Linked DNA regions of Homo sapiens: all the other regions are linked to region 1. The links come from fine-mapping of genetic effects on gene expression. A gene starts in region 1. Each other region holds a variant in brackets. All regions are shown on one strand. Distances are from middle to middle.

The links. PIP is the estimated chance that this variant, and not a neighbour inherited with it, causes the effect.
Region 2: its variant is fine-mapped to the expression of CLDN10 in whole blood (TOPMed, PIP 0.97).
Region 3: its variant is fine-mapped to the expression of CLDN10 in whole blood (TOPMed, PIP above 0.99).

Annotation. Positions count from the first base shown.
Region 1 is chr13:95,546,922-95,557,612 of GRCh38, reverse strand. CLDN10 (claudin 10) reads right to left here and starts at 4,893. Exons shown (of 5, transcript NM_006984.5): 1 at 4,640-4,893. The coding sequence starts at 4,859.
Region 2 is chr13:95,525,736-95,536,426 of GRCh38, reverse strand. It overlaps CLDN10-AS1 (CLDN10 antisense RNA 1), which reads left to right and starts at 2,517. Exons shown (of 4, transcript NR_046533.1): 1 at 2,517-2,729; 2 at 7,840-7,935. It also overlaps a transcript of CLDN10 not described here. RefSeq lists an enhancer at 838-1,132. The variant G/A (reference allele first, on the strand shown) is at 5,921.
Region 3 is chr13:95,475,663-95,486,353 of GRCh38, reverse strand. It overlaps CLDN10-AS1 (CLDN10 antisense RNA 1), which reads left to right. Exons shown (of 4, transcript NR_046533.1): 4 at 6,392-6,910. It also overlaps a transcript of CLDN10 not described here. Among named protein-coding and RNA genes, the nearest start is that of CLDN10-AS1, 53 kb to the left of the region's middle. RefSeq lists enhancers at 5,969-6,048, 7,387-7,746. The variant GAAGT/T (reference allele first, on the strand shown) is at 6,020.

The DNA of each region.
Region 1 (10,691 bases):
TGAACAGCAGCCATAACTTGTTAATTTTGCGCATGCACAAAGAAGGCAATTTACAAGGACGATCATTGGCCAGATTTTCTGAAATGGAGAGCAAAGAGCAGGGGATAAACTCCCCTGCCAGCCATAAATGTAATGGAGTTGCTCGTAAGCCTGAGATTTGTAAATTCTCAGTGTTCTAAGGCTACCAGTCCTTACAACACCCACAGATTGGAGCCAAGATGATTCCAACAAACCCTTTCAGAGTTCATCTTTTGCAAAGCAGACCTCTACAGCCTTGCTTTCTAACAGTTCCTGAGGGCAAAACTTACAAGTAACACCACCAGGAGAAGTGTTAGTAAAAACCTAGTCAAGGAGGCCATTATTTTTGACAGGTCTAATTTACTGACACTGTTAATAGCTAATTAACACATTAAGGTGCTGAGGCATGAACATATTTATTTAGAAGTTCTCTGAAGTATAATTTATAGTTAGTTCTCCTGGGAGAAATGGCAAGCATTCCCACTAGCAAAAATAGATGGCATACACTAAAAACAAGCTGGCTGAAAATCATACTCAGCTGAAGTTCAAGTGGTACTTTGAAAGGAGTATGGGTTAACAATAAACAGAAATCACAAGCTCATTCAGCTGTGAAATTTTCAAATAGTAAAATACAGTGACTTTAAATTAATGAACTCTGTTGGAGGAAAGCTTCAAGGTGTTCCTTAAAAGTTAAGTGTTTTCCAAATTATGTGTACTTTATTTTCAATTGCAAATCAGCAAAAAACGAAAACATCCACTTGGTGGAGACAATTCGCTAATAGCACCTGTGCTAGTTGATGGATTTAGGGGGGAAAAAAGAATGTGCTTTTCTTTTCCTGGTAGCTTTGTGTACTTCTGCAAATCCTTTGAGAGAACAGTGGTATGGGGAGGGCAGGAACTCTGAGTTTCACCTCTGGTGCTTCTATTTACCCAAGGTATGTACTTGGTTATAGGACCTAATCTCTTTGAGGCTCAGTTCTCTCATCTGTAAAACAGGGATGGCAGCACCTCCTTCACAGGATGAATAATATGGATGTCTGCTGAGCAGTAAGAAAGTCATCAAAGCATCCCGTCATATTATAATACTACAATGGATTCTAAGCAGAAATTAGAGCTGGGTTCTTAATATGGCATAACGTTAAATCTAGACATATAGCTTTGCTAGGCCTCATTTTTCTTATAAGGAAAACAAGTGGCAATGATACCCCTAGGGGAGGGGAATCAGAGATTTCTTTATATAAGAAATTTAGGGCTGGGCGCATGGCTCATGCCTGTAATCCCAGCACTTTGAGAGGCAGAGGCGGGCAGATCACTTGAGGTCAGGAGTTCAAGACCAGCCTGGCCAACATGGTGAAACCCTGTCTCTACTAAAAATACAAAAATCAGCCAGGTGTGGCAGTGGGTGCCTGTAATCCCAGCTACTCAGGAGGCTGAGGCAGGAGAATTGCTTGAACCCGGGAGGTGGAAGTTGCAGTGAGCAGAGATCATGCCATGGCACTCTGTCCTGGGGGACAGAGTGAAACTTTGTCTCAAAAAAAAAAAGAAAAGAAATTCAGAATAATGACCTCGTCGTTTGACTCCAAGAGTTCTTCTACCTAACACAAGATAGGCAAGAGTCACGAGCCTTCTCTCTCCCTTCCTGGATTCTCTTCCCAATCTAGAGCTCATACCTGGGTTTAAGGGGAGGGCTGTTCCACTCAGGCCACCATGGCCACTTTCTCCAAAGGCAATGTCAGGACCAGCACCCACCAGATGTGGCTGACCTGGGAATGCAAGGTAGAGGACAAACAGAGGGCCCCTACCCTGGAAGCTTCCACTTGCAGGTGGGGGAATCAACTCCCCTCCACAGGAAAACACAGTTGCATGATTTAACCCTCCAAGATGTTATTCTGAGAGATACAGAAAAGTAAGTTTGTTTTGCGGTAAGAAATGCCATCTTAAGCCACAGAAGGAAAGTCATCAAAAAAACAGGCTGATAAATATGATTCTATTACAAATTTCAAAGTCCTGTGTGAGAAAAGGCATCATAAATTTAAAAGATGAACAATGGTGTGAGATTGCAACCTACATAACAAATCAAGGACTGACAAATCATCGAAACCACAAAGAAACAACAGAACCATGGGCCTAAGATATGGATGCCAATTCACAAAAGAGAAAAAAAAACGGTCAGTGAGTTTTGACCATTTTTATAACCAGTGATTTTGACCACGGCAATAAGGGAAATGCCAACTAAAATGATAAGATGGCTGGGCGCGGTGGCGCACACCTGTAATCCCGGCACTTTGGGAGGCCGAGGAGGGTGGATGACCTGAGTTCAGGAGTTCGCGATCAGCCTAACATGGTGAAACCCTGTCTCTACTAAATGCAAAAAAAATTAGCCGGGCATGGTGGCACATGCCTGTAATCCCAGCTACTTGGGAGGCTGAGACAGGAGAATCACTTGTACCTGGGAGGCGGAGGTTGCAGTCGGCTGAGATTGTGCCACTGCACTCCAGCCTAGGCAACAAGAGCAAAACTCCGTCTCAAAAAAAAAAAAAAAAAAAACTGGATTAACACAGAGTGGTGAGAATGTGGAGAAGCAGGTATTCTCATACACTGTCAGTGGAAAGTAATTTGACAGTATGAACTGAATATTAAAATGCACGTGTATTCTACTGCTCTTACGATACCATTTCTCAGTGGAATGGAGTCTACAGAAATACACACACATACAAAGAGGTGAATATAAGATTTTCAGTAAAGCACCACCAACAAAGAAAAGCTGGAAAAGGTCCAATGTCCACAATGGATCTATGGTTAACTAAGCCATTTTATGCAGTCTAATGAATATACCATGCAGCAGTTACACAGAGTCAAGTCACTTCTATTAAGTACTGACTTGGAAAAATACATTGATTTTAAAGTGTTGTACAACAGTAGGTAGTGTCATGCCATTTATGTTTTTAAAAGTCATTTTTTAGTCACATGAGCACACAGGAAGGCCATTTTGCAAGCTGGATGGCATAAAAATGTCACTCCTCTCTGTTCTCCTCCCAGCTAACCAGGACAACTATTCCTACTTCCTCTTCACTCCCGGCCCGATCTGCCCCCAAACAGGTATGGTACCACCTCCACTCTCACTGCAGACATGTAGGAGAAAACTTTATTATTCTGCACTTAATAATATTCATAGAGCATTCATTTCCTTCTCTCCCTTGTCCCCCAACTGTCCTACAGAAGGAAGCGTACCTATCTGGCACACTATCTCAGAGAACAATAGAGTTACAACAGAAGAGTGTTCAGAGGACAGTAACACATTGCTGACTATAAATCACAGGAACAAGAGAATGCCTGTTCATCTACCTGGATGCGTGCTCTACAAACCACAGGAAATTCAACGGTAATGCTGGGGAATAAACACTGTTCCGGCTGCTTATTTTACCGAACAGGACACGGACCCGGGCGCCACCCTTCTAAAACTAGATGCGTATTCCTTATACGGAGGTTCCATCAAATACCACGTTGAGCAACAGTTTGCTCTTCGTGGCAAACCCCATCTTAGAGGAATCAACTATTTTCTTTCATTTACCCAGCTATGTAAACAAAACCTGCAAGTGCGGTAATAAAAGAAAAAAACACCTCAAATCTAGAAATATGTAATGTAAATAACTCCTCTTAAGTTTCTGCCAGGATTCGTTTGCTGTAAAATCCTGGAAGCAACGGGCCTAGAACTTGAGCAATCAATGGGACCGGGCTGACATCGGCTGTTGTCTTGAAACTCAACAGAGCCAGAGTTCTGTGTGAATATCCACCAGCTGCTACCAGCATAAGGCCTGACTAACCAGAGCAACGCAGGTGAACCTCCACAAAGGAACAACCCAGGACAGCAGCAGGCACCGGGGACTCGGATGCAGAACTGGTCAGCTCCCGGCGCCACGCTCTCACGGCCCAAGATTCCCTACCCTCTGCGGACTCATCGCGGCACCGCAAGGGCTATTATTTTCCTAAAACTCGGAGGAAGTGTTTGTAGTGTTGCCTAGGCAGACAAGTTTGTAGAAGCTCTTTAAAGGGAAACAATAACAACAACAAATTCTGCAATATGTTTTCCCGCTTCCAACCTCTCAACCCCCACCCCCGCCTACTTTTAAAAGAACCAACGAAATGGCTCAAGGGAGGTCAGGACAAACGGATTTGGCTTGCAATGACACCATTTTTATCAGAACCCAGCCTTCGGGGAACGTAGGGGAGGGAGGTGGAGGAGACAAGCCCCTGCAGCATGAACTCTGGGTCCCAGCGGTCCCCAAGATATGGGGGGTGGGGGAGGGCAGCCGCTTCCTTGACTCTCAGGACCGCAAAGCTTCCCCATCCCCCGACGCCTGGGAGTCACCAACCCGGGCCTGTCTGCGTGTCCCCCCTCCCGGGGTCCCAGGCTCGAACAGGCGCCCCGCGAGACAGCCATCAGGAGAGGGCGGGCACCAGGAGCGTCCCTGGCTCCCTAAGGCCCTGTTGGGAGAGACGGGTCGGGCCTCAGAGGAGTCCAGTCTAGGGGTCCCGCTGGGGGTATTGGGGGCGAGAGGGCGCCTAGCGGGCTGGCCATCAAGGAAGGAGGGCTGAGGGCGGGGGCCGCGGGGATGCAGACCGTCCAGCGCCAGCATGGAGGGGAAGTCCTTGCAGTTGGAGACGCCCGTGGAGTCGGTAACGCACGCCTTCCACAGGTTGGCCCAATAGGTGGCGGTTGTGATGACCGTGCCGTCGATGGTAGACACCTTCCAGTAGTCGGTGGGCAGCGTGGAGGACACCAGTACCCAGCCTGAGATGGAGACCATGAAGGCGATGATCTCCGAAGCCGTGCTAGCCATGCCGCCGGCTGCAGCCGCGCTCGCTCTCCGGCTCCCACTCTGCGCCGCGACCCCCGCACTCCCAACCCCGGGGCTCCGCCTCCCGCCTCCGCCTCCGCCCACCGTCCCCGCCCACCACCCCGCCCAGCGGACCCGGCGCCAGGGGGCGCACGCGACCCCTCACACCCATGCCCTGTCCCTTGAGGGGCCTCAGAGGGCTCGCGGTCGCCCCCCGGGTTCTCCATCTGCAGCTGGCCCGCGCCCGCGTGCGGGAGGAAGGCCGGCCTGCGCTCCCCTGAGCCAAAGGGCCGCGGAGAAGGGCTCGCTTGTTGGAGCGGCTCAGGTTCAGACTGGCAACCGGGTGTGGACAACCTGCTGCGCCCCCACCTCACCACCCCCACCCAGCCCTACCCAAGGCAAATAGCTTGGCTTCCTGACTACCTTGTAGAAGCAGAGCAGGAAAAGCCTTTTGCATGCCCTGAAAGGACACGGTTTGGTAACTCAGCCCTCGGTTTGCTGAACTCTAAAGGTTTGCGTGCCACGCTTGTTTGGGTGACTCTGTTTGACTTGTCAAGGAGGGATCATTGCAGATTCTGGGCTGGAAACCGGCCTTGCCCTCAAAACTCTGCAGTTCTTTTTGGCCTGGTGCTATGCGGAAAGTCATGGCAAAACGGTGCGTGGCACAGGCCTAAAGTCAAGATAGCAGCAGATGGGGCATCCTGACGATCTTGATCTTGCTGGTGTACTCATACTAATGCACTACGCAGAGGGCATTTGTTCAACACATTTTCCCTGTAGGTCCCTTCCAGCTTCCAGGTCTAGAGGCTATTCTATGAAAGGATGCTGTTATCCCAGTCAAAACTGCTATCTTGTCTTTTATTTTTTTTTAAACCACCTCCATCTCTCACGCCTAATTGAAATATAAACTCATTCATTCCTTCATCCCTTCATTGCTGTCTCAAGGTAAACATAAAGATCAAGGTGTACTTCTGGCTCCTGAGGCCACAAATCTGGGCATAAATGAGAGAACAAGGACACGGGTTATTATTTGTCCACTTAAAGGTTCTTGCAGTTTTGTTATGAGCTTCCAGGTTTCACTTGTTGCCAAAAGTAAGGAAAGGTCTAAAACCTATCAATCAGTCTGCTGTGATAAATCTCGTGCTAACCCTCTGTGTCACTATCTTTAGGCAGAAACACTCTGGTTCAATGTGAAGAATTTCTTAATTTCCCTTTGTCACTTTTTTTTTTTAACCAAATGGGTGCCCAGTGAAATTAGAGGCGACAAGGTGACTGGAGAAGAGAGGAAGCTGGACATAGAATCATCAAAACTTAGATTGGAAGAATCACTGTAGACCAGCAGGACACGCTCCACACTCAAAACAATGTTCCTGTCTATTTCTAGAGATAATGTTTAGCCCATGCTCCACCCTTCAGGACCAGCAGTTCAGTGCATGGCAACGTATCTATTCTGTTTTTCTTCATGTTGTTTTGACAGCCCTTTAAAAAAGCTTTTCTTCCTATTGAGCCCCAAATCTGTCTCTCTTCAATGTCTACCCGAATGTTGTAATCTGTGCTCTGAGAACACGAAGTAAGTCCTACTCTTGTTGCAGCCGTGCAGCGGCTGGCAGGTAGTGGGCTTCTCTGTGCTTAATGGTCCCATGGCTTTCGTGAATGGGTACAAGGGTGACAATGCAGACATGGTTACCCTACTGTTCTGCTCTGAACCCCAGCTTGTCCTGATGTATCATGTTAGGTTCACTGGTAAACTAAACTTAAAAACTGAGTTTAAGAAGTATCTCCCTGGCTGGGCGCAGTGGCTCACACCTGTAATCCCAGCACTTTGGGAGGCCGAGGCGGGCGGATCATGAAGTCAGGAGATCGAGACTATCCTGGCTAACACGGTGAAATCCCGTCTCTACTAAAAATACAAAAAAAAAAAAAAAAAAAAAAAAAAGTATCTTCCTAACCTCTTCCTTCTCATTCTCCTTGCTATGCAAATCAGTCACCTTTGAGCAATGACTACAAAGCATCCTCTATTCTTTTGTATGGCTTGCCTTTTTAAAGTGTTTTATCATCTGTTTTTTTGCCCTCCAGCATATTTCCACTATTATTTCTATGCCATATTCCTTCCTGAATAATCTGCCTATTTCTGATCCAATTACTATTTGAAAAACACAAAACCCACTAACCATAACATTTCTTACTGATTTTTCTAAAATTACAAATTACACAAATTTAATACTTTATTTCCTGGCCTTGTTCGATAGTCCCTTTGTTTACCGTGGCTCGCCTATGGTAGATACTCACTAAATTGATTATTTCTTTGTTTTTACTAGACAAAACCCTGACTTACTTTTGCCACAAAACAAGTGTAGTGCTGTGACCTTTAAGACTCAAGCACTTCCTAATTTATCACCTAGTTGCTATGAAGTCCACTGTTTGGATCCAAAGGCACATTGTTTGTTTTAAAGAAAGAACTTTGAAGAATGGTTTGGTGTTTTAAACCAGTCTGCAAAGTTTATTTAACACATAATGTAGCTCTACCCATTATACTTCAAAAATCCATAAGCCCAGATTACCGTTGCAACATAGCATCCGGAAGAAACAAATTCTGAATTCCTGCTTGGAACACTCTTCTCTCTGCCGCATCGCCACACCAGTGAAGCCAGAATCTCTGGGGGTGGCCTTGGTAGCAGTATTTCCAAAACTTCTAATGTGGACTCAGGCTGAGAACCACAGCTCTGACCAGTTGAGCTCTGTGTATGTGTGTATAAACAGTTAATTTAGCATAACGGATGGTGGTATGCATCACAGGAAGAAAGAATATTAAACTCATTGTTGAATACTTTGAAAAAAGAAATATTCTATTACTGTAGAGATTGCAACACACAATTTCAACTTAAAAGGGATGGGAAACACCACAAACAATCCATAAATTAAAACTTAAATGGCAGCATTATTAGTTCCTTTGGCAGCTAAAACAGACTAGGGTCGTCATGCCTGTGGACTTGGTTAATTTTCCTTTCTCCTTTCTATGAGGTTGGACAACCCTAAACTCTTTTCTTTATCTTCCCTAGGATGTACTACATAGTTACTGTGGAAAGCTGTATGTTGGAGGCCATGAGTTCCTGACCAAAGAATGAAAAATGTTAACTTTCTTTAATACCTAGATAATATTATGTAATGAATCAAACATTTTTATTTTAGAATGTCTTATATCTTATGCTTCTCAAGCTAGTTTTGTCAGGAGAATTCTAAAGATATTATGGAGTAGCATATAATCTAAAAAAAGAATGTCCAGAAAATAAAAATGGACCAAATAGAGATTTTTGAAAAGAAGTAATGGATAAATGTCTTGTTTTGCTTTAAGATTATACAGTTCCCAAATAACCTTTGCAGTTAATCTGCAAGCCGATTTACAGAGTACTTTCGACTGATAAATGCTTCCTTATTTTCTTTAGGATTCAGTTCACTGAAATTTCATAAGAGACTATTCTTAATTTAAATATAAAAGTGAATACATCAAAAAAGGTTGCCTCCTCTAAATTATTCAAAGTAACATCTTAGTTAACAATAGTTTAGTCTTTACAAAAAGCTATAGATCTTTTCCAATATGAAAACTACTAACTGATCTATAAATTTGACCCGAAGACATACAATGCCCTCAAACATATTCTGAGCCTTTCTACTTTTGAGGTCTAAGTCACTGGAATTAGCATTGAAAATTATTTCTTTGGCTTATTATGGTTATTAAAGAGAAATAGAGGATCCCCCCCACCCTGGGGTTGTTCAATAGGAGTGAAAACCAGTTTAGCCAACTAAACAGGAGATTTGCAGAAATTCCTTACTTGAGATTCAGTACACCTACCAAGCAACGCAGGTGTGCCTTTCAATAGCTCAAGGATTTTCTAAGCATCAGATTTGGTTTCAGTATACATTAGCTCCTTCCTAGATTCCAGTGAGGTGGCGTGCTGCTAATCAGGTGGGAAGAAACTGAATTCCTGATGATACGGTATTAACTAAAAAAAACAACTGCCCAGGAGCCAAGTATTGTTACATCACATTAAAGAAGACATTAATGCCGGTACCAAGATATTAAAAGAGCATATCTGTGTTCTTTTTCCTTCCATTTTCCCTAACATTTCATTTATCTTAATGCTTATGCAAATCCAATGATATTTGTAATCTACTTAGCATGAAAGCTACAGAGTGATAGGAATAGTTACAGAATGAACAGTTATTCTCACCATTGCATCACCATTCATATATAAATATATATCTATAATTTTTTTTGCAAATTATAACTATAAAAACAGTTGCCTTATTCTGTCATTTGGCAACCTGTGAAGTTGTACTCCATCAGAATATTTCTATGGGCCTATTACAAGTCAGTGCCATATACCTTGTGGATTTGTTTTTCATGCATTCATTTGAAACACACTCATTCCCAATTCTAAATTATCTTAGTAGACTCCTCTTGAGCCCCTGAAGGGGAGGGGTAAGGTTTGGGCCCCAGCAGGAATACCCTTCGAGCCTGGAATTACTCTCACTCTGTGATGCTAGAACATTCCAGGGCTTGTAGACAGGTTGGGTACATTTTGTTTGTCCATAAGCACTTGATGAATATCAATATAACCTCCCACCCAGGTCGGGGCAGTATGTTAATTTATATGTTTTGGGCAAGTGATTTTATGTCTCTGAGTTACAGCTCCCTCATTTGTAAAACAGAGGAGTTATTCTGGATATCTTCCGAGACCACTTTCAACTCCAAAAACCCCTGAGTCTAGGATTCCTAATGAACTTAGTCATTCACAGATAACATCAAGGAGAGGAGAGTAGCAGTTTTCCTTTGGTGTCTTTACTGTTTTATTCCCACTTTCTGCCTCCCTCCTTTGTTAAATTTAAAGGTGGCGTCTGTATAGATGTGTATGTGAGAGGCAGTGCATGGAGAAAATCTAAAATCTCTACATGTAGACTTATTGTCACTTATTCCTTCTGTTTAGGAGAAATGTGATAAGGCATGGTACTTTCATTCACTTAAGAGTCAGGGAGATATAGCGGACAGAGGGTAGATGATGTAATCAGAAAGATGTGAGATAAAATTCTACCTCTGAATGACCTTGGACAGGTCACCTAATCTCACTCAGCATCACTTCTTCAAGTATAACGTGGGACTAAATGACAGCTTCTTTCAAAGGCGTTGTGAAGAATAGAGACAATGTATATGAAGGACAGGAATGTAGTGGATGCTTAGTAAATAATGAATATTATTCAGTTCATTCATGCCTCTCATTTCCTTGTGTCTCTTTAAAGAGATACAATTACATTTTTTCATAAAAATGGTATTAATCGGTTAGGCTAACAGCAGTAAGTGAATAAGGCTGAAGTGTATTGCAAATCTCAAAGTAGGAAAGCAGAAAGTGTGGAGTCGAATGCCAACATGGAAGGGGCTGGTGCCCAGAGTGAGGGCAGAGGGAGGGAAACCAGGAAGTCAGAGCAGAGGATAGTCCCGGGGAGCAAAAGTGGTTGGGAGTGAGGCGCTTGCAAAGGAAAGTGAGAAATAAAACTGGAGGACAGTTAAATTTAAAAGGGTGAACAGCTGGGTGCCTGTAATCTCTCCCAGCCCCTCCAGAGGCTGAGGCAGCAAGATCACTTGAGCCTAGGAGTTCCAGACCAGCCTGAGTAACATAGGGAGAGTCCCCATCTCTTAAAAAAAAAAAAAAAAAAAGTTAGCCAGCCGCCTGTAGTCCCAGCTCTTTGGGAGCATGAGCTAGGAGTTCAAGACCAGCCTGCCTGTCTCTAAAAAAGTAAAAATAAATGAAAGAAGTGACCAATGATAAGGCAGAGAGAGTA
Region 2 (10,691 bases), 21 kb after region 1:
CCTGGGCTGGAGTGCAGTGGCGTGATCTCGGCTTACTGCAACCTCCACCTCCTGGGTTCAAGCGATTCTCTTGCCTCAGCCTCCAGAGGAGCTGGGATTGCAGGTGTATGTCACCATGCTAGCTAATTTTTGTATTTTTAGTAGAGATGGAGTTTCACCATGTGACTAGGTTGGTCTTGAACTCCTGACCTCAGGTGATCTTTCTGCTTAGATGAAGCAGATATTAAGGACTTTTTTTTTTTTCAAATTTAGGAAAATACACAAATGTATTTAAAGATATCTTGAGAGACATTTAAAACATATTCTTCATTTTTCTTCTTTAACTGACCATCTCAATAGACTTGTCTATTACAGTATCACAGTCTCTCTGTCCACCACCCATCTACTTCTCCATCCACTGCCATCTTTCCTACCTTTCCCTTTCCACTGAAACACCATAGGCAAAAGTGACAAGTGGTTTTGTGCTACCTGACTTAGTGAACAGTCCCCATTCTTTATCTTGTTTGTTTTCTCTGCACCTTTTTCATAGTTGCTCAGTTCCTTCTTTGTGAAATACTTTATTCTTTCGGCTTCCATAGCCCCATTCTTGCCTAGATTTCTCTGCCTGTTCCACGATTCGTCTCCATGTCTCCTCATGGGCTGGTATCTCCAGCATTCTGTACTTGGCACTTACCCCTTTTCACATCACAGTCTTTCCCTGAACCAACTGGTGGCTCCATAATGGGATTCCCTGACCCAGAATCAGTTCTTCTGATGTCCCATGTGCCTATGGGACATCTTCTCCTTTCTCCTGGTGGCTCGCAGGTATGGAGACCTCAATTATGTCTACAACTAAACCTCTCACCCCCACCTCCCCCGCAGCTCCCTTCTGTATTTTCTCCACTGAACCATGAACCATATTTGTTTGTCTACCCACTCAGTCTGCCAAGCAAGTTATGAGTGTTCCTGAGTCATCTTGGATGGCGCTCTTCCCTCTGTACTCCTCATCACTCAATCTTGTTGACACTCTTTCTGAACTGCCATGAGTCATTCTCACCTCTCCAGGCCCACACTACTCTTCCCAGTTTAGACCCTCATCACCTCTTCCATCCACTAGCCTGACTGGTCTTCCTGCCCCAGGGCTCACCCCTTCTAATATGACTCCCCAGCTGATTTTCCTAAAAGATAAGCCTGATTGTTTCTTTACCCCTTTAAAACCCTTCACGGGCTCCTCATTACTTGCAGAATGAAATCTGTGTATCTTATCATGACACAAAAGGTATCCTAGGATCTTCAGCCCATCACCTGCCATGCTGCACCTTGGAATACTCTGCTGGATCATAGCAAGCATGCATGGCAGTGTTCTTCCACCCAGGATGCCTTTTTTGCTTAATTAGCCTGGAGAATTCCTTTTAATTACTTTTTAAAAAAACTCTTTCCTCCCCCAATAGACCAGGCCTGAGAGTCACTCTCTCATTCTTGGTGGCGTGCTTCCATTGTTGCATTTACTGCGCAGAATTGGAGTTTGTATCCATGTCCCTGCTGAGCTGTGAGCGCTTTGAGAATAAACACAGATTCTTATTCATCCTCACTGTTGTTGTTATATTATAACCATGATTGGCTACCGTTTATTGAATGCCAGGAGAAAAAAAACCCTGAAGTTTGGAGATATTAGGAAAATTGCTCAAAGATGTATTGCCATTTAGAGGCAGAGTTATAATTTAATCCCCTTTTTTTAAATGATCCAAAACACATGTTCTTATCAAAATGATGCACTACAACTTAGAGGTTTCCTGGTAATACTCCTACTAGTAGTAGTTATTATAACTATCACTGTGAATCATGCATTATACTAAATTCTTTATATAACAATCAGTTTCTGAAGATGGAGAATTGATTTTTTTTTGAATTTTTAACGGTTTGATATAAAAAGTTATTTTTAAAAATGTAAAATAACAAAAGATATTTACTAAAGATATTCATACATTTGACAGGAGTATAGTTAAGCTTAGGTGGACCAGATGACCCACAATATCCCTTACCACATAAGATTTTATAATTCTACAAATATTTTTCCTCTTTTGATTTTAACAAATCTTTTCTTAAATTTATTTTATTAACATATCGTCCTGGCAGTAGCTTCATATGGTTATAACCATGTTTTCTTCTTCTTTTTCTTTCCTATTTGAAGGAAAAAAAAGACACCCAATGCTTTCTGTGTGTTTTCATATGTAACCTTCTACATAGCAGATGCTGCTAAATTGCTGGGGATATAATGAGAATTAAAAAGGAAATACAATTCTTTTTCTCATGGAGCTGAAAATCTAGTAGGGGAGACACACATTACCCAAACGATCCCTCAGTGACCATGTAATTATAAACTGAATCAAATGCTCTCTAATAAAGGACTACTGTACTCTGAAACTGTATAACAAAGAACGTGATCTCTGCTCTGGGTCAGGGAGCATGTCCCTGAGGAAATGGGCGGGGGCTGAGGCTTGGTGAGTGAGGCGGAATACTCAAGCCTGGTGCCGGGGAGGAGAGCCTGGCAGACAGAGCTCTGGGTAGAGTCTGGGTAGAGGGACCTGTGGTGGGAGAAAGAGAGAAGATCAGAGTGGAGGGGAGAAGCAGGGTTGGGGCCTTGAAGGTACTGCTGAGCATGTGGGTCCTTATCCTTACCCTGCATTGCCCGCAGGCCTGACCTTTGCTTCATTCTTCATGGCTGCCAAGTGAGAGTGTGGCCCCTGCAGGTAAGATCTAACTAAGTCTTGGATGTCTCTGTATCTCACCGGGTAGGCAGATAGTAAAAGCTCAATAAATACTTCCTAATTTATTTGACCTACAGGTTTTCCCCTCCACCTTCTTATACCTGTACAATTACTAGAAGAGACTCAAGATACCAGCGTGATTTATTTTTTAATGGATTGAACAAATTAGTTATTTATTATCAAATAGTCCCATTGGAAAACAATTCTGTGAAATGTATTAGGGGAGTGTTATATCTAAAGATTATTGAAAACTGGTTCTTTCTTCTAAAAATCTACTTTTGTTTTCCCCAACATTTTCTCATAAAACTTTATAAAATATATAGCAATGTTGAATTTTACAGTAAACACCCCATATATCATACCCAACACCTACATTCTACCATAAACATTTTATTTGCTTTGCTCTCTCGCTCTGTCTCTCTTCTTCCCCCTCTCCCTCCCTCTATCAATCTTTTTTTTTTTTTTGGAATATTTAAAAATAAATTGCAGGCCTCAGTACAATTTCTCCTAAATCCTTCAGCAAGCATATCACTAGCTAGATATTAATATTTAGTTTTTCTTTTGATGTAAAAATTACATACAATGAAATTTATAAATCTTAAGTGTACATTCACTAACTTTTGACAAATGCATACATCTGTGTAAATGAAACAAACACTATCTTTCTAGAAAGTTCTCTCATACTCCTTCCCAGTCGATCCCACTCCCCCCGTTTTTCTTGTGTTTTCCACAGTAGACTAGTTTTATCTATTCTAGAACTTTATCTAGATACAATCAAACAGCATGTACTCTTTTGTATAAGGCTTCTTTCAGTATGTTTTAAGACTCATCTATGTTGTTGCACATATAAGCAGTTCATGTCTTCTTTTTTTTTTTTTTTTTTTTTTGCTGAATTGAGTTCCAGTATCTGAAGCTATCACAGTTTGTTTATCCATTTTTCTGCAGATTAACATGTGAGCTATTCCCAGTTTTGGGCAAATAAAGCTGCTATGAACATTCTTGTACAAGTTTTTTTGTGAACATGTTATCATGGGTAAATATCTAGGATCAGAATTACTGGGTGGGAGGGTAAGTGTATGTTTAGTTTTATAAGAAATTACCTCACCATTTTTCAAAGTGTACTATTTTATATTCCCACTAACCATGTGTGAAACTTGCAGGTACTCTACATTCTTGCCAACGTTAGATGTTATCAGTCTCTTGTTTTAGCCATTCTTGTAGGTATTCAATGATATCTTATTGTGATTTTAATTTTTATTTCCCTGATAACTTCATGATGCTGAGCACTTTTTCATGTGCTTATTGCCCATTCAAATACCTTCTTTTGTGAAGTGCCTGTCCAAATTTTTTGCTCCTTTTCTATTGAGTTGTTTCTTTGTTTTTGTAAGAGCTGTTTCTATACCAGGCTGTTATCAGATACATTCTTAGTGAATATGTTCTCTCAGTGTATGGCTTGCCTATTTTCTCAAAGGCATCTTTTGATGAGCAGAAGTTTTAAATGTTGATGATGTCTAATGTATATAAATTTTTTTCTCTTATGGTTATTGCTTTTTTATGACCTATCTTATGAAACCTTTGCCTACCCCCAAGTCATGATGATATTCTCCTATATTTTCATTTTAAACCCTTTGCTTTTAGCTGTTTTTTATGTGGCCTATGATCCATCTCTAATTATTGTTTGTTTGGTATGAATCAGAGGTTAGATTCATTTTTCCATATGGCTCTCTGGCTACTTTAGCACCATTTGTTTAAATTCCTGTTGGACTGTTTTGGTGCCTTTGTGGAAAATCAAACACATGTGTAAGCGCAGATCTATTCCTTTATCTTTTTAAAAATGTAAATACTAGCCGGGAGCGGTGGCTTATGCCTGTAATCCCAGCACTTTGGGAGGCTGAGATGGGTGGAGATCAGGAGTTCGAGAGCAGCCTGGCCAACATAGTGAAACCCCGTCTCCACTAAAAATATCAAAAAAAAAAAAAAAAATTAGCCAGGCGTGGTGGTGGGCGCCTGTAGTCTCAGTTACTTGAGAGGGGAGGTAGAAGAATCGCTTGAACCCAGGAGGTGGAGGTTGCAATGAGCCAAGATTGCACCACTGCACTTCAGTCTGGGTGACAGAGTGAGACCCTGTCTCAAAAAAAAAGGTAATACTGAGCAATCAACATCCAAAAGTTTCCTTCTTTTAATTTAAATTTTACATCCTGTAATCTGGATAAGAGTTTAATAATGAGGATATAATGACTTTTGACCGCCTACTAGAAAAATTGATGCCCTATGGCTTCTTTAAAATATGAATCAATTTGTTTCTCTTTCAGGGATATAACTTTCATATTGCTAATCAAATGCATTGGAATCTTTACTTGAAAATTAAGTTGGCCTTGAAAATGCAAAATAAAAAATTATGTTACTGCCATTATATGCTAATTTAAAGTCTACCATATTTTGTTATTTAAGAAAGATGATCATCCAGGTGTGGTGGCTCACGCCTGGTAATCCCAGCACTATGGGAGGCTGAGGCGGGCAGATCATGAGGTCATGAGATCGAGACCATCCTGGCTAACATGGTGAAACCCCGTCTTTACTAAAAATACAAAAAATAAGCCGGGTGTGGTGGCACACGCCTGTAGTCCCAGCTACTCGGGAGACTGAGGCAGGAGAATCGCTTGAACCCGGGAGGCTGAGTGAGCCAAGATTGTGCCGCTGCACTCAGCCTGGGTGACAGAGTGAGACTCCATCTCAAAAAAAAAAAAAAAGGAAAGATGATCAGTTTCTTCTCATTGGAGTCTAATATGGTTGAAGGGCTAGAGGTGTTTCTAGGAAGGATCTTAGTATATGAACTTAGGTAAGTGAGTTTCATGTTTTATTTTTTATTTGTAAAGAAAGAAAATAATTCTTTGACTGTTCCTATTATAATAAGGTATTGTAAAGATCAGTGAATTTCAGGGCCATACTTTAGGAAAACATATGGATAAAACAATAAAAAATATAAGCACAAGGTAGTTGATAAACACAAGATGTTTTCCTTGAGTGTCTATGTAGCAGGTATTTTTCTTTGTGTAAAAGCTTGTAACCATAGCATTAACATTCTCCTTTATGAAATTTGGGATTTGATCTCTTTGCCCTAATGAAGATAGACACACAGGGTCCTTTCGATGAGTATACTCAGGCAGGGAAGG[G/A]CGAAGAGTGGTTCTAAGTCCTTCTTGGCAGCCTTTCCTGGGCTTGCCACCCCAGATGGATTTGCCTGCTCTTGAGTCCAGTAATTCAATAGCCTGTTTCCTTCCGGTAGGGGTTGCCCAACCGCTTACAACCTGCCATGAGTCTTCGTCTCATGCCACTCACAAATGTTGTGGTTTAAACACAAAGAATTTTAACATCTCTCACATCCCAAAGTAAACAGCAGTTCTGGAAATGTCACAGGGCTTTCAGTGCATGGGAAATGGATTCTGTGAGATGGATTTAAATAACTCATGGTCCACTGTGGAAACTTTTTGAAGCTGCTCCCCCTCCCCATTTCCCCCCTGTCAAAGTGATTAGGTGAATCAAGAGGAAACAAATAAAGGTGCTTGAAAAAGTGAACCTAATCACACACTTTCTGGTTGGTGTTTGTGGGCACTAAAAAGCATTATATGCATGTGGTTTGAGGTTTTAATATGTGAAATTTATTCACCTTTAATATCTTTTTTGATTTAAATATAATCAACTCAATGTTTTAAATAGTGAAAGTGACCTTCTATAATAATTATATCACATTTGACTCTAGGATAATTTACAATGTTTTCCTCACCAGAATTATTAAAAAGCAGTACCAACTGTTCACATCTAATAAGCTAGTTTCAAGGGAGAGCTATGTCCTGATAACCCAAGAAATAACAATCTTAAACCCTAAATTATTTGGGAAAAAAAAGCGAAACTGGAATATTAACTGTAACCTACTTATTTGTATAAAAATCCTGGATATGACCAGAGATTTTTGCACACTTCATGTAGACAAGTAGGGAAAGAAAAGAGATTATCAGTGTCCTACAAAAGACTTTTGGGGAATGGAAAAGGACCACTTCTGTATGAATACTACCTCATGAAGCCAAAAATAATAAGAGTTACAGGAAAGCCAGGTGACTAAATTATTCCAGCCTAGAGGCACGCTCACCTAGAAGCTAAGAATTCTACTGCAAAGGACTGAAGTTCCCAATGCCCTTGGCAGCACCAAAAAAATAACATATTAATAAGGCGAATGGTTCTTAACAATTCCTTTCAAGCCCTGTTTTCTATGTAACAGGGTACATTATTTTGAAAAAAAATGTGTTTATTCACTTTAATTAGTTAGAAATCTTACTCCTAACTAGAAGTATCCCAGAAGATCTGATGAAACACCTGCCAATCAAAGGAAAAGAAAGCACCACTAACTTACTGATTGAAGAAATAAATGGATCAACAGAGCAAAAAGAGATCTCAATAGTATCTGTTGAATTTTCTTCTGATTATTTTGAGGATTCCTTTTAAATTTAGAAATTATAGGTAAATTTATAGGTAACAGCATGCCTCCATATGATATTAAGACAAAAATTAAAAAAAAAATACTAGACATGGGCAGCAATATCTTACTGACCCCACCAGTTCTACATTAAAAACAACAACAACAACAACAAGAAAAACATTGTTCCCAGCTTTGTTTCAGAAAGAAACAAAACACCCTTGATTGGCCATCACTCAGTTATGTGTCTTGGCACCTTTTCTAACTCTCTGTAGACAACCAATTCATACTATGTTCAAGCTCTAAATATTAGTGACTGTGGTGTCTTAATGACCTACTTAACTTCTCTCTTTAACTTGGTGTTGCCAACTTATTGAATAAACTTTTTTTCTTGCCAACTACCCATTTAATAAAATGGCTCATTAATGCAGTCAGATCTCCTTCAGTGGCTTTGCCGTGGTGTCTGTACTTTTTTCTGCTGCCATGAGCTCCACACATGACATTCTCCCTTTCCTTAGCTTTACTCAATATGGCTATCAGTCTTTCAGGAGAAGGAATCATCTTGTTTATTTCTGTTTGATCTTACTTGTTGCTGATACCTTATTTGAATTTATCTTTTGGCAGATGGTTGGATCATCCATCCAGTTCTTTGCTTCCTCTAGCTGATATCCTTCTTTGCTGTACTATATGGGAAAAGCAAGAAATATTTGACACCAAAATGTATGATTCACTTATGCATTAGTCCGTTTTCACACTGCTGATAAAGACATACTCGAGACTGGGTAATTTATAAAGAAAAAGAGGTTTAATGGATTCTCAGTTCCACATGGCTGGGGAGGCCTCTCATTCATGGTGGAAGGCAAAAGGCACATCATACATGGAGGCAGGCAAGAGAGAATGAGAACCAAGTGAAAGGGGAAACCCCTTATAAAACCATCAAATCTCATGAGACTTATTCACTACCACAAGAACAGTATAGGGGAAGCCACCCCTATGATTCAATTATCTCCCACTGTGTCCCTCCCACAACACGTGGGCATTATGGGAGCCAAAATTCAAGATGAGAATTGGGTGAGGACACAGCCAAACCATATCAACTTGTATATGGTGGCATTATAGAGACAGATACAGCCAGTCACACAGGGAAAGGAAAAAGATTTGAACAAAGCCTAGAAACAACTACTTGATGTAGCCAGAAAACATGCTGTCAGATCACAGCACAGATCCTAGAATCAGGAAATCTCCAGGTTGCCACAAATCCTAGTGGTCAATGGTTCAGCATACATCCAATTCAATGATAGCAGTCGAATAGCAAAAAACTTTTCCCTACAAATGTCACACTCCTGTTAGAATGAATGGCTATAGCTGACACACTCTGCCTTTGGATGCATAGAATATTTCACCATAAGATGATATACACTCGCCACAGAGTTTTTTAATTTTGTTTATTTATTTATTTTTGTTGTTGTTGTTTTCGAGACTGAGCCTTGCTCTGTTGCTTAGGCTGGAGTGCAATGGTGCAATCTCAGCTCACTGCAGCCTCCAGCTCCCTGATTCAAGTGATTCTCCTGCCTCAGCCTCCTGAGTAGCTGGGATTACAGGCACCCACCATCATGCCCAGCTAATTTTTGTATTTTTTTTTTTTGTAGACTTGAGGTTCCACCATGTTTCCCAGGCTGGTCTTGAACTCCTGACCTCAGGTGATCCACCCGCCTCAGTCTCCCAAAGTGCTGGGATTACAGGCGTGAGCCACTGTGCCTGGCCTGTTTTTGTTTTTTCTATATCAGAATTTTAAAGAGAGAAGAAGGTGGACTTCTGGTTAAGGATGGGAGACACACACATTTGTATTTGTTTCCTCATGAAATTTTATTAAAAAGACAGTAAATGAATTTCTTAAAAATTATTGTTGAAAACCATCAAGAATAAAGAGGAAGCAAACAAGAACATAACATTCCTTTTATGAAAGTTGAAAATAGCATTCATGAACAGTAAGCTGCCTAACAGAACTGAGAGGTTTGGTCCTAAATTGGCAATAAGGAAAACCAAGAAACAACCCAAATTATATCGCAGAACTGCCACAATTAGCAGGCCCCTGGAAGCTTTGGAAGAAGGTGGCAAAAATGGGTCTAAAACAGGAGGATTTGTTGAAAGTCCAATTAGAAGTTTGACACTCATATTTCATACTCAGCTCTGTTCAATGGGGGCAAATCCTCCCTCCTCACCTGAACAGAAAGCTGGAAGTATACTCTCTGGGGTGGATGAAATTTTGGTTGTTGAACTAGGGGACACCTGTTCCAAATGAAGAAGGGAGTTTCATTATTAAAACAGTGTGATTAACTAAAAATTTTACACTAAATGCTAAGACAGCTCTCCTTTCCTTCTCGCCATGTTTATTTATTTATTTATTTATTTATTTATTTATTTGAGATGGAATTTCACTCTTATTGCCCAGGCTGGAGTGCAGTGACGCAACATTGGTTCACTGCAACCTCCACCTCCCGGTTCAAGTGATTCTCCTGCCTCAGCCTCCCGAGTAGCTGTGATTCCAGGTGCCCACCATCATGCCTGTCTAATTTTTGTATTTTTAATAGAGACGGAGTTTCACCATGTTGTCCAGGCTGGTCCCTTCTTGCCATTTTTCTACATTTGGTTCTCAAAACACAAAACATTGGCAGCCAGGCCTAAACTCCGTATACAAGAGACTGACTGTGAGATCCATCTCTAGAGAATGGACAGTTTCATAAGGAACAACTTAAAGATACTGACATTGAAGTTTCCCTAGTAAAATGGCTCATTACAAATGTCCACTGTGAGCTTCTCAGTGGACAAGTCCGTCTACAGTCTCAGAGCTTCTAATGAATTCTTAAATTCCCATGCTGAAGAACTGACTGGCAGACAGTTGAAGAAATTTCCAACAGGGAAGTCAAATGAACAAACAAAGTAACTTGTAACAACTAACATGGAGAAAACGTTAGATGGGGAGAAAAAAAATCTAACAATTATAATTAATATTTTCACAGAAATAAAAGAAAATATTGCATCCATGAGATAAGCACAGCTAAAGAACATTCGGAGAATGCACACAAACACTCTCTCGGAAATTAAAAAAACCATAGTTGAGATAAAAACACAATGGAAGGTTTAGAAGACAAAGTTAACAATATCTTCCAGAGAGAAGTGCGAAAACATTGAGACTTAGAAAGTAGAAGAGAAAGACAAGGAATATAGAAGAACGATCCAGGAGATCCAACATCCAAATAAGAGGATTTATAGACCCAGAATCAGTGAGGAGAAATCCTCACTGCATGGGAAAGTACAGGCGCACAAAGCTAGATGCAAGTTGTTTAGTCAATTTTAATAAGGTTATTCTGCAGTCAATAACAGCCCTAGAATCTCGGTGGCTTACAACAGTGAAAGTTGGGCTGGGCATGGTAGCTCATCCCTGTAATCCCAGCACTCTGGGAGGCTGAGGTGGG
Region 3 (10,691 bases), 71 kb after region 1:
ACGGAGTTTTGCCATGTTGGCCAGGCTGGTCTCAAACTCCTGACCTCAAGTGATCCACCCACATCGGCCTCCCAAAATGCGCCTATTGCATCTTGGGCTGCAATTTCTACCACTTGCAGGAGTTGAGGGAGACAGAACACTCACAGAACAAGTTAGGCAAAGCAACTTTATTCATCACAGATAGGCAGCAAGGCACAACAGAAGCCTAGCATCCATTGCGAGCTGATTCTGCAAGGCTCAGGAAGCTACTCAGAATGGATGGAGTCTTGTCTGCACATGCCCCACAATGCACTGTAGCTGAGGCACTCTGAAAGCACTCCACTCTGGGTTTTATACCCTGGGGGGAAACTGGGATCACTGGACCACAGCATTGGAGGACATCTTGTCCTAAGAGGAACAGAAACAGAATCTGGCATATTCTGGACAGCTTTTCCTTATCTCAGAATGTTGTTTCCAGCACATTCTAGCATTATTCTGAGAACTACAAGTGAAAAATGGGGGAAGAGCTGGGTTATCAAGGCCATCCAGGCACTTATCCTGCAATGCCCAGGAAAGTCACCCCAGAGGAGGTTACATTTGAGTTGGCCTCAAAGCACGGCTAGAATTTCTAGTCCTTATCTGGAGGAAATAGAGTGAGGAAAAACATACAGCTGAGTATGCCAAAAACACAAGTTGTCCAGTGAATGTGTGTAAACTCAGGCTGAAATTTAGCAGGGATGATGAGAAAGGAGATATGGATTAGGCCTGATTAGGAATGCCCTGATGTGCCATTCTAGGGAATCTGGAGTGGGCCCGGGCTTGAAAACCAGCAGTGATGAATGGTAGAATTCTGTTTGGCCAGATCAGATTTGAAAATAATTTTGAATACCTTTGGATAGGAAATTCAGCTCCAATGACTCATAGACCTGTGGTGTAAGGCCTGAAATTAAGATTCAAAACTAAGTGCTGCCTTGACCATGGAGGCTGGTAAAATCAGGGTACAGAGGCTCAAATGGATTAACTGCAAGTTCTCCTCCCACTCTGCTCCTGGTGGATAAAGTCCTCTAGCCAAGCAACCCTCCTTATCAAAGGGACCAGGCGCAGTGCTAGGCTTCAGGTCCCCGTCAGCCTGTAGAATTATCCAAGCAAACCAAACACATCCTCTTACAGGAACCAGGGGCACCTCGCCCTCTTGTTACTACAAAGCCTGCCTCCCACAGCTTCCTGGTGGTTCACTCTGTTCCCAGCTGCAACCCCCACGTGGCTCTCTGTGGGGCAGTGTCGTCCTTCCCTGGGCCATGAGCATATGTGACTAATTACCTGCTGCCCATCTCATCTGTCTAGGCTTGGATGTTGTACATTCAACCATCCTCTCAACTCTAGGGCGGAATCCCTCCCTCACCAGTGGGGTGAAGTGGAGGCAAACTAAATCAAACTAAATAAGACCCCATCATACCATGTTGTATTGCACTCTGCTTCTTTTTTTTTTTTTTTTTTTTTTTTTTTTTTGAGACAGGGTCTCACTTTGTTACCCAGGCTGGAGTGCAGTGGCACAATCTTGGCTCATTCCAACCTCCACCTCCTGGGTCCAAGCGATTCTTGTGCCTCAGCCTCCCGAGTAGCTGGAACTACAGGTGCTTGCCACCACACCTGGCTAATTTTTGTGGGTTTTTTTTTTTTTTTTTTGTATTTTTAGTAGAGACGGGGTTTCGCCATGTTGGCCAGGCTGGTCTTGAACTCCTGACCTCAAGTGATCTGCCCACCTTGGCCTCCCAATGTGCTGGGATTACAGGCGTGAGCCACCACACCTGGCCTCATCCTGCTTCTTTACACACTTACATTTCCTGCATAACTGAAAAAACTTGACCTTGTAACACCTCTTTTCAGGGGAATGACATATAAAATTATTCATAATGACAGACTATGAAATATTTTACCAATATTTTCCTTTAAGAAAGATTAGGGAAGTAGTGTTTAGGATAGATTCTACATGGAACAAATTAGAAGTAGAAAGACCAGTCAAGAAGTATCTGAACAGAATGATAGCCGAGTGGTGTGCAGTGGATACTGTGATATGCTGCCCAGAAAGGACAGTGAAGGACATCAGGCCCCAGCTGCTAGAAGTGCTGCTGCAGTCAGCCTGTAGCTCTTAGCCCTCTCAGAAAGTGACTGAGCTGCAGAGAGCTGCCTCACCCAAGGACATGCCCTATCTTTGTCCTTTTGGGCTGCTATCCTACCAGAGACTAAGTAGTTCAAAAACAACAGAAATGTATTTCTCACAATTCTAGAGGCTGGGAAGGCCAAAGTCAAGGCACCAGCAAATTTGATGCCTGGTGAGGGTTGGCTTCCTAACTGATAGAGAATGTCTTCTTACTGTATCCTCATGTGGTGGAAGGGATAAGGGAGGGACCTCTCTGGGGTGTCTTCTATAAGGGCACTAATCCCATCCCGAGGGCTCCATCCTTGTGACCTAATCACCTCCCAAAGGCCCCACATCCCAATACCATCACCTTGGGGGTTAGCATTTTAACATACGAGTTTTGGAGGGACACAAATATTCAGACCATAGCACACTCATGCCTGGGGAAGCTCATATCGAGTGACCAATGGATGGTGGAGCATAAGGGCTTGGCCAGCTCAGCCATGCTTGGCATGTTTCTAAAAGTCCACCTAACTCCAGAGCTCTTGGTGAGGTTTGCTGAGACTGTCAGCCTTGGGTTGTAGCTCAACGTCACTGCTCTGCCCACTCCTGCTTCTGTCCCCTACCTTCCACAGGTGTGGTCCCTCCCACAGGCACGCCTTCATGAAATGCCTCTTTAGAGTCTGGTTTCTGGGGATACAACCTGTGATGCTTAAAAAATTAAGAGGCCGGGCACAGTGGGTCATGCCTATAATCCTAGCACTTTGGGAGGCCAAAGCAGGAGGATTGCTTGAGCTCAGTAGTTGAAGACCAGCCTGGGCAACATAGTGAGACCATGTCTCTACAAAAAATTTTAATAAAAAAGAAAGAAAAAAAATTAGAGATGAGAAATGAGGGGAGGAGAGGGAAATTGAGAAATAAGCTTAGATAATTTTCACCCTAAGGGTAAATCTCCCAAATAATGTTTCCCCATCTTCTCAGAGAGCCCACAGTCTGAACGAGGAGAAAGCTGTTCAATGAAAAATCAATAAGTAGTCAGGTGAATCCTCCAGGAATCTGCACAGAGTGGCAGTGCCACACCTTTTACATAAACCAACCTCCTCACTCTCCCCTCCTCAGCAGCTCCCAGGCCTGAGGACGGGCAGCGTCACTTTCTCCCAAGAACGATGGAGAATCATTTCTCACCAGTAAGAATGTTGGCCTCACATTAAATTCGTGATGTTTAATGGGCTTATTTATGTATTTATTTATTTTTGAAATGGAGTTTCGCTCTTGTTGCCCAGGCTGGAGTACAGTGGCACGATCTTGGCTCATTGCAACCTCTGCCTCCTGGGTTCAAGAGATTCTCCTGTCTTAGCCTCCGGAGTAGCTGGGATTACAGGCACACGCCACCATGCCAAGCTAATTTTTTGTATTTTTAGTAGAGATGGGGGTTTCACCATGTTGGCCAGGGTGGTCTCAAACTCCTGACCTCAGGTGATCCACCCACCTCAGCCTCCCAAAGTGCTGGGATTACAGGCGTGAGCCACCGCGCCCAGCCAGTTTATTCATTTATACTTCAATCAGGATTAAGTACATCATGAGAATAAAACAATCCAGATGGTTCTGAGACTGAATCTGAGCTCCTGGGTAACACAGCAGGGTGGATCTGGACTAGACTTCCTGCCCTGGATCAGCAAGATTGGTCTCATAGGTGTGCACTGAAGGCAGCCCGAGAAGGTGTGATTTGATGGGCACCTAGAAGACCCATCTATCCCCAAAAGACATGACTCAGTGAGGCTCTAGACCCTTTCTGCCACAGCAGCTTCATGTGGGCTTTGTAGATCAGCACAGCTCTTAGACCCAGCTGTGCACGGCGCCTGACTTGGGCCATATATATTAGAGAAGGGGTCAACAAACTACAGACTTTGGGCCAAATCTAACCTCCCCATCCAGACCTGTTTCTGTATAGCCTATGTAAAAAATGTTTTTTACATTTTAAAAATCTTTTGTAAATTTTTAAATTTGTAATTGTTGTGGGTACATAGTAGGTGTATATATTTATGGGGTACATGGGACGTTTTGATACAGGCATGCGATGTGAAATAAGCACATCATGTAACATGGGGTATCCATCCCCTCAAGCATTTATCCTTAGTGTTACAAACAATCCAATTATACTCTTTTATTTTTACATGTACAATTAAGTTACGTTATGATTGAGTTTTTACTTTTTTGAGTCAGAGTCTCACTCTGTCGCCCAGGCTGGAGTGTAGTGGTGCGATCTTTGCTCATTGCAACCTCCGCCTCCTGGGTTCAAGTGATCCTCCTGCCTCAGCCTCCCAAGTTACTGGGATTACAGACATGCACCACCACACCCAGCTAATTTTGTATTTTTAGTAGAGATGGGGTTTTGCCATGTTGCTCAGGCTGGTCTCCAACTCCTGATCTCAGGTGATCCACTCACTTCGGCTTCCCAAAATGCTGGGATTACAGGCGTGAGCTACTGTGCCTGATCGAGTTTTTACATTTTTAAATAATGGAAAGAACCCAAAAGAAGAATATTTTGCAACATAGGAAGATTATCTGAAATTCAAATTTCAGTGTTCACAAATGAAGTTTTCCTGGAACACAGCCATGCTCATTCTCTTAAATATCATCTGTGGCTGTTCTCATGCCCAACAGCAGAGTTGAATAATTGCCACAGAAACCACATGGCCCTCAGAGACTAAAAGTTTACTACCTGGTACTGACCCCTGCTTTACAGCTTTGCTGCTTCATTCTGTGGTCTGAAGACCAGCCTCACCAGCTTTACCTGGGAGGCTGTTAGAAACGCAGAATCTTGGTCCCTGCCCTAGACCTACTGATTCAGATCCCAGGAAATTTCTATTCCCATGAATGTTGGAGAAATGTCAGCTTAGAGGGTTCTGCCCCGGCCATCCTCTGCTGCCCTTCCCCTCAGTGCAGGCAAGGTCCGCACTGAGTCACAGATTTAACATTATAGTTAGTCATAAATGTTTTAAAATTATGAGTCTGCAAGGTCAAGGGCATGCGTCCTCCTGGAAACTCTTCCCCATCTAGGCCATGCTCTGAGTGCCTGGGAATTTTCTGCCTCCAGGGTCAATGCCAGCTTCCTCTCTGGGGTCCATTCTAGCCCAATAGGTGGTCAAGATGCAGCTGTTACAGGGTGGACGGAGAGTGCCTGTGCTTGAATTTATGGATGGTGTGTCCTCTTGCTCAAGAAGCAAGTTCCTCATGGCATAAAGTGGGAAGACAAAGGGGAAGGATGGCAGCTGGGGGTTAGCTCTTGCTGTCCCATTACCTTCTGGCTTGGGCTATAGAGCCCAGGAATTCTAGCCTGCCATGTAGTTATGTATATATATTTGACAGTTTATTCACTTGATAGATAACTTCTAAGTATTTCAACATAGCTTATGGGCCTTCATTGGTACTCTTGAATGTGAATAGCGTGTCTATTGAATATTTCTCAACGTGTGTTCTGAGGACCCCATGCAGCAGAATTCACGTGGGTTGTTTGCTTAAAATGCAAATTCCTGGGTCCCGTTTTTGATTATCCTGAATCAGAATTTTTGAGGGTGGAGCCAAGGGATCTGCATTCTAACAAGTTTCCCAGTGGTTCTGGTTCACACCAGAGTTTTAGGAACTCTTGAAACTGGGGTAGGGTGGACAGGAGCTGGCTCCCAGTGGGCAGGAGCTTCAGGGGAGAAGAAAAGGAACCAGCCAGCTCAGGGGACCACAATGGCTGCCAGCTTCAGACGCTTCCTATTTCTCTCATTATCTCTCTTCCGCATCTGGCCTGAGCCCAGCTCTGGGTGTGAGCTGTGGAGAGAGGTTTTCTGCCAGGATTGGGCAAGGGCATTCTCCTCTAATACAGGGCCTTCAGAGACTGCTCTACCGAAG[GAAGT/T]GTCTGAGTCAATGTGAAACTGGAAAGAAGAGAGATATGGTTTGGCTGTGACCCCACTCAAATCTCATTTTGAATTATAGCTCCTACAATTCCCATGTGTCGTGGGAGGGACCCGGTGGGAGGTAATTGAATCATGGGGGCGGGTCATTCCCATGCTGTTTTTGTGATCGTGAGTCTCACAAGATCTGATGGTTCTATAAGAAGGAGCTCCCCCGCACAAGTTTTCTCTTCCCTGCCACCATGTAGGATGTGACGTTCCTCCTTCACCTTCCACCATGATTGTGAGGCCTCCCTAGCCATGTGGAACTGTGAGTCCATTAAACCTCCTTCCTTTATAAATTCCCCAGTCTTGGGTATGTCTTTATTAGCAGTGTGAAGATGGACTAATACAAAGAGGAACTAGGGGAGCTTGGAGGAACCAGAGACTCAATCAGGGATTCAAGTGAAGTCTCTGTTGCAAACCCTTGAGCAGGTGAGAACCCCTGGACTCTTGCAGGGGATGTGGGAGGAGCTGTACATACAGACAGTGCTGTCCAGCCAATGTGGGTTCAAACCCTGCATCTGTCACTGGCTATGTGACCTTGATCAAGTTCCTTAAGGTCTCCAGGTTTGTTTTCTTATCTGTAAGATGAGAATCCTCTTCTGCAAACCATGTCTGTTTAAAATATGTGCTTATTTTGAAAGTGATGTAGCAACATTTTCTCTAGTTAATGTTCTTTCTCCCTCATAATTTTAAAACATTTATTCATGACTATAATGTTAAGTCTGTGACTTTATTTTTGCTAAATGTCCATCTCAGAGAAGAATATGACTTTATATAGCGAAGTATTTTTTAAAAAATAGCCTTAGTAATGCATATTTGCAATAAAAATATTTGACAATCCTAATACCTTCAGGCTTGTCATTGGAATGAAATGTGATAATTAAGTAAAACCCATTCTTGCTACAAAGATTTAAGTGGTGGCCACTTTTTTTCCCCCCGAGATGGAGTCTTGCTCTGTCACCCAGACTGGAGTGCAGTGGTGTGATCTCAGGTCACTGCAACCTCTGCCTCCCAGGTTCAAGCAATTTTCCCTGCCTCAGCCTCCCAAGTAGTTGGGATTACAGGCACCCGCCACCACACCCGGCTAATTTTTATATTTTTAGTAGAGATACGGTTTCACCATGTTGACCAGGCTGTTCTTGAACTCCTGACCTCGTGATCTGCCTGCCTCGGCCTCCCAAAGTGCTGGGATTACAGGCATGAGCCACTGCACCCGGCCGGTGGCCACTATTTATTAGGAAGCTTGTTATCTTCTACCACTGCACCTGCTGATGATTGCTCTCACAGGCACTTAACCACTGGCTAATAAAATGAAAGTTCCTTAAACCTTACGCACAGGAAGCCACTTAGGCTGCAGTTGCAGCCCTGTGCCAGGGCAGTGCTTGGCCAGTGACCTATAACTCCCTGAGGCTCCTTGTGAGGGAGCAACTCCTGAAGTCACATGGCGAAGATGCTCACAGGACATGATTCTTAGGATGATCCCACCTGTCGAGACCACAGGCTGTAACTCACTGTCACAAGTTAGTGATGAACGCGGAACCTTAATGAAACCGCCAGCGACAGCTGTGCCATACTGCAAGTCACCACTAGGGGGAAGCAGAATACAAGCATCCGGGTAAGAACCAACGAAGCGCTGAGGAACGTGGCCCAGGAAGCCAAATGGGGATGGGAGGGGAGAAGGATCCTAGGCGCACCCTCCCTGTTCACCCCACCCACCGGGCAGACCTGCACACTCCTGGTCTTGCTCTCAAACCATCTGATTCCTCTGTTTCTCTGTTCTCTGGTCCTGGTACAGCACATTATATCTTCCGTATGGCAAAGGCCAGTGGTTCTCTAACATGGCTGTATGTTTAAATCACCTGGGGAGTTCTGTAAACGCTCTACATCCTGGCCTTATCTCAATTAAATCTGAATCTCCAGTGTTTGGAAGCAGGGATCAGTGCTTTTTATATTTATTTATTTACTTGCTTATTTATTTTTGAGACAGAGTCTCACTCTGTTGTCCAGGCTGGAGTGCAGTGGTGCGATCTTGGCTCACTGCAACCTCAGCTCCCTGGGCTCAAGCGATTCTCATGCCTCAGCCTCCCAAGTAGCTGGGACTACAGGCATGCACCACCATGTCCAGCTATTTTTTTTTTCTATTTTAGTTGATATGGTGTTTTGCCATGTTGGCCAGGCTGGTCTTGAACTTCTGACTCAAGTGATCTGCCAGCCTCAGCCTCCCAAAGTGCTGGAATTATAGGCATGAGCCACTGTGCCTGGCCTCCAGAGCTTTTTAAAACACAACAGGTGATTCCAATTTGCAGCCAATTTTGAGAACCACTGTTTTAGGCAAAAGATCTCATTTCTTTTCACATGAAAGCTGGCTTTCATTGTTAGAGGACTCCTCCAAGAAGCCTCCCTAACGAACCACACGTTTTCCTCCTCCTCCTCCATCTGTCCACGGGCCTGTCTGCAGCTGATGCCAGTACTTATCATGGCTTAAGATACATATGGGTTACCTGAGGGTGTTGCAGATTCAGATTCGTTCAGTCTGGGGTGAGGGGTTGAGACGCTGCCTCTCTAAGTCCCAGGTGCTGCTGGTCCACAGACCATCCACAGTAGGGTTGGCAGGACATCAACCTGTGTTTCCGCATGTGCACCTTTGCAGTTGTTCTCTGTTTTGCATTCCTTTTCTGCTTCTGTATTAACCATGTTTCTCCTTTCTGTAAACCTGATGCTTTAACATCTGCCCCGCGTGCATCTGCAGGACACACCTTGCTCTGTGCAACCCAATAATATGTCTCCCTCACTGTCCCCCTCCCCCTGGAAGGAGTCCTCCGGGTGATATGCTTTTCAAATGAAAACCAACCCAGAGCTCGCATCCCAACCAATTCCCTTATCTGGCTCTCACACTCCAGGCCACTATCCCCCTGCCCTAATCACCCAGGACCAGGTATCTGACAAATAGGAACAGCCTGTATGCCCCAGAGCCTGCTGAAATGATTTAAACTAGCCAGTCCTGAGCTAGCTAACCCTGCCTTGCCCACTCTTTCCTGTGGAAACCATAATAAGGGCTCTGGCCACGTTCTCTTCTCCCTCTGCCTCTTGACCAGCCCTCGTGCTGCCCCGGGTGTCCCTGCATGGCGTGGCGTGCCCACTTCTCTTAGATCTGAGAGTAAGAAACTCTCTCTTCAGTGAGAGTCATCATCTGATCTATTGGCCTCACCAAAGCTGAATAAAATTAAAACCTATTAGAGCAACTCCCCTGCTAGGAGGAGAGGCGTGGCTGGTTCCCAACTTGTCTGCATCCCGCCTCTCCTCCCAGTCTTGCTTGGGTCCCTGCTATGCTGCTCATGGTATGAACACAAGACCCTGTACACACACAGAAAAGAGCACAATCAGTGACTGTTGAATGAATAAGTGAACAAATGTAGGGAGAAAAATTCTGAACTTGGAGACCTGGCTCTGCCACTAACAGCTGTGAGAGATTGTGAAGGTGCCCCCGAGACTCAGTGACTTCATCTGTCCTGTTATTTCATAGTGAGGCCACCTGAGCAATATGTGTTAAAGCCCCTTTTCATCCACATGGTAGCATCCTCCTTTCTCTCTCCATCTCCTACTTGTCACTGGTGTTCAGGGTTCCAGCCTTGCCCTTCACACACTGCCTGGGAGGTCCCATCTGTTTCTGAGTCTTTGAATCTTCACCCACAGCTGCTATGGTCTGAATATCTGTGTCCCTCCAAAATTCACACGTTGAAATCCAAATGCCCAAGGTGATGGCGTTGGGAGGTGGGGCCTTCGGGAGGTGATTAGATCTTGAGGGTGGAGCCCCCATTAATGGGATTAGTGCCCTTATACAGAAGGCTCCGGAGAGCTGCCTCACTTCTGCCACCACGTGAGGACACAGAGAGAAGACTCACCTGTGAATCAGAAAGCAGCCCTCACCGGACACCAAATCCATCAGCACCTTGACCTTGGACTTACTTCCCACCCTCCAGAACCGTGGGAAATACATTTCTGTTGTCTATGAGTTACCCGATCTAAGGCATTTTGTTATAGCAGCCTGAACAGACTAAGACACCAGCTCAGGCTCCCCTCTTGAGCTCCACACACGTCTAACCAAATGCCGACAATCCATCTCTATCCTGTCAACCTGCCTGTAAGTCATATTTGACACATTCAAAATCGAGTTTATCATGCCTTTGCGCCTCCCAAACCAGCTCCTCCCCTCATATGTCCTATCACCACAAGTGCCCAGAAGGGGAGTGGCACACGGAAGGAAGCAATCTGGGCGATGGGGGTGGAATTAGATGGCAGAGATTTGTGACAAGCATAGAAGACCACCCAGCACGCTCAGGGGCAGCATCAATCATAAGTCACATCACAGCAGAGCCATGGTGCTCATCACAGCAGAGCCATGGTGCTCAAGTCCCGACAGGGAGAGAGGGTGAGGGAGAGAGAGAGAGAGAGGGAAAGAGGGAGAGAGAGGGACAGAGAGAGACAGAGAGAGAGAGAGAGATGCAGGGACCCTCGACCCATGCAGGTGGGCTTGGGATCATGAGAGCACATGAGGATAGACCCCAGGCTGGCTTCACTGAGACGCCACCCAGAGAAAGGCAGCTGGAGGATGAGGTGGGAATGGA